Linked DNA regions of Homo sapiens: region 2 is linked to region 1. Evidence: fine-mapped expression QTL. Tissue or cell type: blood mononuclear cells. Region 1 holds a variant in brackets; the other region holds the start of a gene. All regions are shown on one strand. Distances are between the middles of the regions.

The links. PIP is the estimated chance that this variant, and not a neighbour inherited with it, causes the effect.
Region 2: CWF19L2 starts here. The variant in region 1 is fine-mapped to the expression of CWF19L2 in blood mononuclear cells (TOPMed, PIP above 0.99). The same link has a PIP of 0.9 or more in testis.

Annotation. Positions count from the first base shown.
Region 1 is chr11:107,267,041-107,272,193 of GRCh38, forward strand. All of the region lies in intron 1 of LOC105369477 (a long non-coding RNA gene), which reads right to left. Among named protein-coding and RNA genes, the nearest start is that of CWF19L2, 190 kb to the right of the region's middle. The variant G/A (reference allele first, on the strand shown) is at 2,311.
Region 2 is chr11:107,455,558-107,460,710 of GRCh38, forward strand. CWF19L2 (CWF19 like cell cycle control factor 2) reads right to left here and starts at 2,268. Exons shown (of 18, transcript NM_152434.3): 1 at 2,155-2,268; 2 at 109-219. The coding sequence starts at 2,259. RefSeq lists an enhancer at 2,047-2,552.

The DNA of each region.
Region 1 (5,153 bases):
AGAATTTAATAACCTCATAAAATAAACAAAGCTCATAAATATCTATTTTATTTGCACCTATGTCTCCCACTGTGATCAGCCATAACCGGATAGTAAATCCAACTGACAGGCAAAAAAAAAAAAAAACCATAAAAAATATTGAAGTAAAACGCTCATCTTTGTGTTGTTTTTTCTAGTCATATATTCAACATAGCTCTTCAGCCAAAGACTCCTTAAGGCAGATTTCTCTGACGCTTGTCAGTACTGCTTCTTTGATTGAGTGGTAATTAGTTCAACTTACAAATTGCAGTTATTTTACTAATGAATCTCAAATGGAATGAAACCAATCAGAAATTATTTACTGGGCATGACAATATGCAAAACAAATAATAAATATTAACTCATTTGTTAATCTATAGGATTACAATTATTACATATAAATATGTGTAATATGTGTGCATATGAATTTGATAATTGTTTTAATTGTATATAATTTATTAATAATTTTAATCATTACCAAAAAAAGTATGACAGGTTCTTACCCTTAAGAAGGTTAGCATCTGTTCCAAAAAAAGTCCTGTCTTTTTTTTTTGAGATGGAGTTTCACTCTTGTTGTCCAGGCTGGAGTACAATGGCTCGATCTCAGCTCACTGCAACCTCCACCTCCCAGGTTCAAGTGATTCTTCTGCCTCAGCCTCCCAAGTAGCTGGGATTACAGGCACCTGCCACCATGCTCAGCTAGTTTTTTTTGTACTTTTAGTAGAGATGGAGTTTCACTATTTGGGACAGGCTGGTCTCGAACACCTGACCTCAGGTGATCCACCTGCCTTGGCCTCCCAAAGTGCTGGGATTACAGGAGTGAGCCACTGTGCCCGGCCTAAAATGCCCATTTTTAATTGGCTACTTCTCACAAGACAAGGCAAATGGGTTGCCTGAGAAATAAAGATTTGTGTTTGAGTATTTATGACAAAAAGTCCATTTGGGAGCCAGGCTAATTCATAAGATATGTGAATGCACACTTTTTTTTTTTTTTTTTTTTTTGAGACGGAGTTTCGCTCTTGTTGCCCAGGCTGGAGTGCAATGGCATGATCTTGGCTCACCGCAACCTCAGCCTCCCAAGTAGCTGGTATTCCCAAGCAATTCTCCTGCCTCAGCCTCCCAAGTAGCTGGGATTACAGGCATGCACCACCACGCCTGGCTAATTTTGTATTTTTAGTAGAGACAGGGTTTCTCCATGTTGAGGCTAGTCTCGAACTCCTGACCTCAGGTGATCCGCCCACCTCGGCCTCCCAAAGTGCTGGGATTACAGGCATGAGCCACCACGCCCAGCCGTGAATGTACTCTTTAGCTTAATCTTTTCTTTTTTATTTTATTTTTTTTTTGAGACAGGGTTTCTCTCTTGTTGCCCAGGCTGGAGTGCAGTGACGTGATCTCAGCTCACTGCAACCTCCGCCTCCCCGGTTCAAGTGATTCTCCTGCCTCAGCCTTTCAAGTAGCTGGGATTACAGGCACGCACCACCACACCCAGCTAATTTTGTATTTTTAGTAGAGATGGGGTTTCACCATGTTGGTCAGGCTGGTCTCAAACTCCTGACCTCAGGTGATCCACCCGCCTTGGCCTCCCAAAGTGCTGGCATTACAGGCATAAGCCATCACGTCCAGCCTAGCTTAATCTTTTCTAAGATCAATACCATCTTTCTGGTGAACTTTGTCTCCAAGCACTGCAAAGCACTGCATCTAATTCAAAGATTCTATGTCTTTGGTGAAGAAGGCCAGCATTGTTGACCTAAGTCTGTAGTATCTGAGTTAGGAACAAGACCTAGTTTCCTCACGCCTGGATGTGAGGTTTATCTTTACATGAGAGCAAGGGACGTTTATGTAATCCTCATTAGTGCGGATGGCTGTTCTGACTCCAACAGCCAGTGCATCATTGCAAGAACAGTTGCTTTAATCTCTAAAGAAAACACCAAATAAAATGCATTTTTTTAAATCAAGGAAATAAGGTTCCGTCAATGCATATTGTCCAAGTGACAAAGGATTTCAGACAGCTACGTAATTAGCCTCTAATAGCAATATACATGAGAATGCAATTTACTTTTCATCATTCTTGTTCGGGTCATGAATTGAAATCACAGTAGGAGCACAAGGCTGTCAGGGATAAAGCAAAGGAAGAAAACAGGACTTGGCTGCTGGGAATATTCACACCCAGCCAAGAAAACATGCCAAATGAGGCTTAAAATGAACTTTTCCTGTGTGCATTTCACAAGTTCAGACCAAGAGGAAAAACAATTCTTCCCCTCCCCTACCCCCACTTTAATACTTTAACCATTG[G/A]GTGAAATATACCATAGTCACATGTATACTGTCTGATTGTGATCCTATACCCTGCACTAGGGGATCTGTCAAATATTCAGTGGACAAGTAGAAGAGAACTGAATTGGGAATCTGAAGACCAGAGACTTAGTTTTTGTTCTGTTACTGACCAGTGGTCGACCTTGGGAAAATTACAACCTCTCGGAGCTTCAGTTTTATCATCTGTTAAATGAAGATAATACGTGACCTGCCTATCTCATCCAGCTATTATAAATCATGTTTTCTCTTCATAGTCAAGCCTCTAGAAAAATTGAGTAGTCACAATCTTGACTTCTTGACCTTTCATTTACTCCCCAACCCAAAACTGACCCTCCACTGAAATGCTAAGACCACTGCTGTCAAATCTAACAAATTCTCAAATGCTTTTCAACCTTTCAATTAATCTCAGATTCTTTTGACAGTGTTAAATGTCACTGTTTTAAAACTTCCACCGCGATTGACTTTCATAACAGCATCCTCTCCATTCTCCTCTTTAATAATAGTGTTCTCCATGGCTTTGTCCTTGGCCTTTATTTTTTTTCACTATCACCATCTCTTCCATTATCTCATCCAGGCTATGGTTTCAACTACTTACCGTGAGTTGATGCTCCTATTTATCTACAGGATCACCCCTCTCCTGAGGTCCATTCTGCTCTTGGAAATATCCTCCAGAACTCCTTAGAGCTCTGAAAATTCAAAAACTCTAAAACCAATTCATTTGGTTCATCCCTCCTGACCACACTTCAAACCACTTCTCTTCCTGTGTTCCCTTCACCCATCCAAAATCTGGGACTCAACCTTGACCTGTTTTCAAAATTCTATCTCCAAAATATTTCTCAAATGTGTCTCTTACCTACTATTGCCACTATCTTGGTCCAGATCTTTTTCATCTCTTGACAGCATTGCAAATGCCTATAAACTAACCTCCCTTCTCTAATGTCAGGTCCTTCTGTGGCATCCTCCACATGGGTGTCAATGTGGGCTTTCTAAGCAACAATTTATCTCTCTTCCCTACCTTTAGATCTTTAATGATTCCCACTACACACAGATAAAATCCTAACTTTTGAATATAAAACAGATGTCCCTTTATGTACTGGGTCCTTCCCACCTTGCCAGTATCAGTTCTTGGATCTCCTTCATTGTCACCTTATTTACAGCCACCCCCAAATCCTTGTCATCTCCATTTGCTATATGAAAACTTGGTGATTTTGCACTGGGTTGCTCCTCTCTGGAATGTTTTCCCTTCTTTCCTGCTGATTGAAAAGATTATTCATCCATCAGGACTCAGCTCCCATGTATCCTTTCTTATTAAACAGCCCCTGACCTTCCTCCTGCTCCCATCTTCCTTAGGTAATTTAATTTCCTTCACAATAGCTTGTGCACACCTTTATTCTAACATGTCACCCCAGACTGCAGTTATCTCATTATCTGACCTTTTCTGAGGGTAGGAAAATCAAGTCTTGCCTGTATTTGTAATATAACGTGCATCACAACAAGGCTTCAGTAATTTCTAGATCTGACCCCTGCCATTTGCTTCAAATGATCAAGCATTCACCTAATCTCCCGGGTTTATTCAACCTATTATCTCCCTCCTAGATCCTCATCTCTCTGTCTAGCCTTCTTGAACCAATAATCCAATTGGATAATCTGCCCAGGTTTGATGTAGGTTAGTCCAAGGCAGCTGGCTGTGAATTCTCCTATTCAGCTCCATGTTCTGAGAGGGGGTTATGTCAGCTGGTCCCAGGTTCCTAGGAGGGCAGCCCAGGTACAGCACCATGAGCACCCATCTGTCAGGTGTGAGAGACACGAGAGAGAGACAGAGAGACTGGGAAAATTGGACTCATTATCTCATTTTCTAATAGCAACATTTTAGAAAATAACTATGTATTAAGAGGACAGGTACTCTACTGAAAAGCATCATTGCACTGCTGGAAGAATAGGAAACATTTATTGAATTGAAATAGCTGTAAGGAAAAAATAGCAAGATATGATTTAAGAAAAGAAATGAACAAAACTGCTCTCATCCTGCATTTCTGTTTTGTCTATTGTGATACAATTGAAGAAATGGGGATATTTGAAGTCGCATCAAACGCTCATCTATAATTCAGCTTTGCTAGAATGGAGCTGAAATGCACACGAAGGCAAGGGTCTAATTAAAACGCCAGACTATTTATTGTCTATTCTTAGCTTTGAAAGGCGATGAACGCTGTTACGGCATTGTGTAGACTATTGTGTTTAATGTGAAAGTCCAAAGGCCAAAAATTTAGATAGCTAACCAGGAAATGGAATGGAATAAATTATAAGAACACATTCACTGTATGCTTCCAGTCAACTTAAGGTTCAAGAGTCTCCAAACAAATATGCTGAAATGAAATGTGTAAATTTAAAACCATTGCATTTTCATTGTTAGAAACACAAACATAGGAGATTCTTTAGACTTTGTCCCTTAATAATAATATAGAATTAAGCATAAATCAGGTTTGTCATGAACTCAAAGGGAATTTATCCTTTGAGTTCATGACAAACCTGATTTATGCTTAATATAGTAATTACATCTAGATTATTGTCCTTCTGGATTACAGCTTTGAAGACTGCTGGAAAATGAAAATACTGACCAGTGATTTGCATCATAAGAAAAGGGTGGGTGTGACCATTTTCATTTTCAAATGAGAAGATCCTGAGATAATACAAGTTCTCTACAGATTCCACGTTGAAGGCTGTTAACAGGACTTACTTTTCTGTCCTCTAGAATTAGGAATTGTGTTCGTTCCTTACAACAGGGCCTCCAACTTCTTTTATATATAGCACAGAGAGCACCTGGTGTC
Region 2 (5,153 bases), 190 kb after region 1:
TTTTGTAACTTATGAAAACATTCTATAAAATTATTCATCCAATATTAACTTGAATACGTGCAAAAAAGGACAGATATCCTTACATCACGTAAACCTGTTAGTATTCACCTGTGAGAACTGTTCAATTCTCTCATTCACATCAGGTAGCATCCATGTATCCTCACCCCGAAGTCGCTTAAGTTCTTTACGCCTTTCTTCTTTTTCAAAATTGGCTTTAGCCTACAACCAAAGAAAAAAAAAAGACAAACTGGCAATTGACCCAACTGGGTTTCACAAAAAAAGGAAAACAAAAACCTCTGTCATTTTTATACAAAAATATCCACTCATGAATGAATGTCTATTCCTTGCCAGGGATTTGCTTCTCCAGTGTAAAAAAATAAAAAAATAAATAAATAAACAAAACAAAGCAAAAATCTCTCCTTCTGCATTTCCAATCTCCAGTGATTTGAGTTACCAATCAGAGAGAATCCAGGGACTGAGTCCAGGCCCTCCCATCTCTCTAAGCTCCCTAGCTCAATATGACTTGGAATCCCTTTTCCCTTCACCATTCCCATGGCTACTGCCTTAAGACTTTTGCAACAGTTAGACCTCCACGCCTTCAATATGCAATGCCTGTAGCCCCAATACCCAGCCCCAAAAATGCCTCAGGAAGAATCATCTCTGTATAAAGAAAGGATCATATTGGTAATTTTTATCCATTCTTCAATGATAGTCAAACAAAGCAAGTTTTTCCTAGGAAATCGTTCCTGCCCTCTTTCTTTCCCTGTAACTCCAAAGCTCAGTTTGGTCCTTTTCAAATTCTATGCATATCTCTACTATAAGATTTATCTCAACTTACGAAACTTACTCCCTCCAAAAACTGCTGGAAATACCAAAGAGAAAAGAATGAATAATATATATATACCCACACACACACATTACATATGTTGAAATTACGAAACAATACCAACATTTCACCTACCCAAGACTAATCGCCCACTCTTCCCCTTTAAAACCTGGCTGTAGTCATTTTCTTTTTTTTTTTAATCAAATATAAAAATAATTTATTAAAGGTTTATATCAGAGAACTGCTGAAGCAACAAGAACTAGAAGAGTTAATATTCCAGAAAAGGGAAAATCATGGAGAGGTAGTCCAACATTCTGCAGCTAGCTTTTCCCTGGGTGCATATAATAATTCTTGGTGTAGGCAAGAAGATGAATACAATGGTTATATACCAAACAGAAAAATCGATATCAGAGAAAAGAGCAGGGCTTATGATGGACTCCAAAGAACAGGGTGAGAAAATTGGAGATTAAAGGAGAATGGGGCTGCTTCACCCTCAAATTATTTGCCAAATTTTGAAACTATGTCATTTTCCCTTTAGAGTCTCCTCTCCCTCTTCTCTGCTGGCTCCTTCTCATTTGCATTTAAACTTGTTTAAAACTCTTCCAACTTAAATAAAAACAAAAACCCTCACTGAATTCTCTGTTGCTCTCCAACTGCAACTTTTCTCTTTCATTGCCACACTTCTTACATATTGAATAGATTGTCAGATAATTCAGAAGCTTACTTTCTCCATTCTTTGTATGTTACCTCTATGTATCTGAAGTTTAGTGAGAAATACAATGTTTCGCGATCTTTTGTGACAGGCTAAATATACTGAGATTGGTGTTAACTTTTGTTTGGATTGGTAAGAGCTTACAGTAAGTCTGGAATTGATACCAATAGAGACAGGAGGAGGAAATGTCAAACTGAGTCTATTCAAGTGTGACTTGAATGTGTTTCCGAAAAAGGAAAATCTCATTTCAGATACAGCAGTAGCAATGACTGAGGCTGCGAGACATGCTGGCAGAGTCCTTACAAGCCGCAGGGGACCTACAAAGTGTGCAGTCCGAGTGATAGAAATGTAAAGAATGGGTAACTTAAAAGGTAAAGAAACTTGGAGAAAAAGCGACAGATCTGCCTGAAAAGAGAATTAGCAACTGGCACCTGCCAGAACATCTAAAAAATCGGTAGCTACAAAAGGGTTTACCGGCATTGCAAAGGGAGAACTCACCCAAATTAAGGTGAGATTCAGTACTGACGAGGTAAGGGAAGGGGTGAGTGGGCTAGCTTACGGGAACCCTCAACTCCCACAACAATAAATAACTACAAAAGCCCCAAAACAGAGGTACCTGGCGCAACACCTCGGCCCTGGCATTCCGGGTCTGTTCTTTCCGCTCTTCGATACTCTTCGCACTTTCAAATCTACCACTAGCAGCCGCCATACTTGTTGCCATCGTAAAGCTAAGAAGCCGCAAGAAAATTCTAGTTTACGACGGTCGTAATTTAACAAACAAACCGGGACTTCCGGACCCGAGGAAGGAGGAGCACGGCTCCACCAACAGGGCATGCGCACATCTGAGGTCGCTTAGGGCTCGGATTACCGCAGCCCAGATTTTAAAGACCCGAAGGGTGTTGGAGGGTTTAATTCTTTCAGGTGTTGGGTGCGATTGTGAGCAGGATTAATACCCGTATATATTTATTATGCACTTTTTACTATATTAACAGCTTTCTCACCAATTTCGTCTTAAAATCACCGGAGTAAGTTACAAGCTCTTGGAAGTTAAGTTGGTACCTCTCAAAAGTTTTCTGCGGAAGTACCCTTTGTCGCCAGAGCATCATTTCCCTGTGCTGGAGGAATGGGATAAAGGGAGGCTGCCAGAAAGGTAGTGGCAGCTGGCAGGAAGGACAGAATTGCCTTGAAGATTCAGTGTTTTGTTTTGGTGGATTTTACTTAATATATGAAACACTCATGTGAATTTTGCATTGCACTTCACAATTTACCCGTGCTTAACTTGTTAGAAGTTTACATTATATTTTTTCCTCTGACCCCATATTATTTACTCATACTTATCCATCCAAGCATTTTTCATTACAATGGACAGTTACTTATTTATTTCTGCGGAGATTTCTTTGTTTTGTTTTACGCATGTATCGCCCAAACATAAAACTTTTAAGTTCAGAAGAATAAGACATTCTAAGGTGATGAAGTGCTTTGAGAACATAAGACACTAAGCTTACATTTACAAGAAGAAGAAGGCTGGGGAATTAATTATAAACGATACCTTAAAGACGCTAAAAATAAGTAACATAAGCCAGGTTGAGGTAAATACTCTTTCTCTTCAGGTTTCATAAAATTTAATGTGTGTTTGCAAGAAGCTTTCCAAGAGTTTTTACATTCACTACCATTCTATGAGTCTGAATCTTGAACACACAATGCCTACTTGTTTGATATGCAATAGAAAGTATTCATTTTATTTTAAAATGTAATTTACTAATCGACCTTGTAATATTTAATCAACTGACTACATTGACTGATATTTGTCATAACTAGCATCAACGTCTTTTCAGATTCTCTTGGAATTCAGAAAAACATCCATTTCACTGTTTTGCATCAATTCAATAAAAATAAACTGTGATTATATTAGAAACGTGTGTGTTTTAATCAGTTCAGGCTGCTATAACAAAATATTATAGAATGGATGGCTTATAAATAACAAACAAGTATGTCTTACAGTTCTGGAGGCTGGATAAAATCAAGGTGTTGGGCTATTTGCTGTCTAGTGAAGGTGTGTCCTGGTTCCTAGAGGGCAGTATTTTTGCTGTGTCTCATATGGCGGAAAGGGAGAGGGATCTCTCTAGAACTTCTTTTATAGGAATTCATGAGGGTGCTGCTCTCATGACCTAATCACCTCCCAGAGTCCCTACCTCCATATACCAGCACATTGGGGATTAGATTTCAACATAAGAATTTTGGGGAAACAAACATTCGGTCTAGAGCAATGTGCAAAGTTATATGAAGAAAACTTTAAAATCTTGCATAAGCTCCCCAAAAAGACTAGAACGAATGGAGAGGTATACTATGTGCTTAAAGAAGAAAACATCATAAAAAATCATTTCTCAATTAATTTGTAAATACCATGCAATACAAATAAAACTGCCCAAAAAAAAGTTGGGGTTAGAGAGGGGAACTAGATATGTTAAAATAGAAAAAAGAAAAGAAAAGAAAAGAAAGAAAAAGCAGGTTATTTTGGCTAGGTTTGCATTTGGCCACACCTAATGCGAATCCAGTCACATGGCTTAATCAAATAAAGGATAACGTAACAAGGAGCCTAAAAGTAACTGGTCCAGGCTTGGTGCAATTGCTGAAGGAGCCAAATAGTTTATCCTTTTTCGCTTTGTTGCAGTCTGTGACTTTAGTATTTGTAGTCACAAGCAGGGTATCATATTCTTTCACATCTGTTCACGGCATCTGATAAACAAGAATAAAGAGAAAGGACAAAGGGTAAACGTTGTTAGCTAAGCTGGCCTCATTTTTTATTAGAAAAATGATGGCTTTTCCTAAAGCCTAGTTCAGTTTCTTTCATTTAAATCCTATGATCCAGAAATAGGTCAGATGATCACAATTAACTACAAAAGTTTCATGAAGATTGCAGGATAGTTGTGTTATAGAATGTCACTCAACTTGGGTTTGTCGGAGGTTCTTTTGTGATTAAATTCAAATTTGGCCTCTTAAGCAGGACGATCACAGAAGTGAGGCGGTCTTACTGCATCCTGTTGGGTAGCGCATGATTTCCATTTGTTCCATTACAGGTGATGTTAATTCTGATCATTTAAATAAACTGGCATCTGCAGAGCTTCTCTGCTGTAAAGTACCTCTTTTCCTTCTATAATAAGTATTTTGTGAAGTGGTTCTTTGAAACTATGTAGATCATGTACCAAATTTTCAAGTTATTTATTTTTATATAATACAGATTCATAATTTCTCAGTGGATTCCTGTTTTTGTTCAGTGGGATAAAAATTCGTTATCAGTATTTATTTTGATCCTCAAATTGGTCCAGGTTAGGCCAGTGAGAGCCCTTTCAAGCTGGTTCCTGTGTCCTTTAGACATGTACCCACATTCTTTATATATATATATATATATATATATATATATATATATATATATATATATATATATATACTTTAAGTTCTGGGGTACATGTACAGAATGTGCAGGTTTGTTACATAGGTATACACGTGGTATGGAGGTATGCTGCACCCATCAACCCGTCATCTACATTAGGTATTTCTCCTAATGCTATCCCTCCCCCAGCCCCTCACCCCCCAACAGGCCCTGGTGTGTGATGT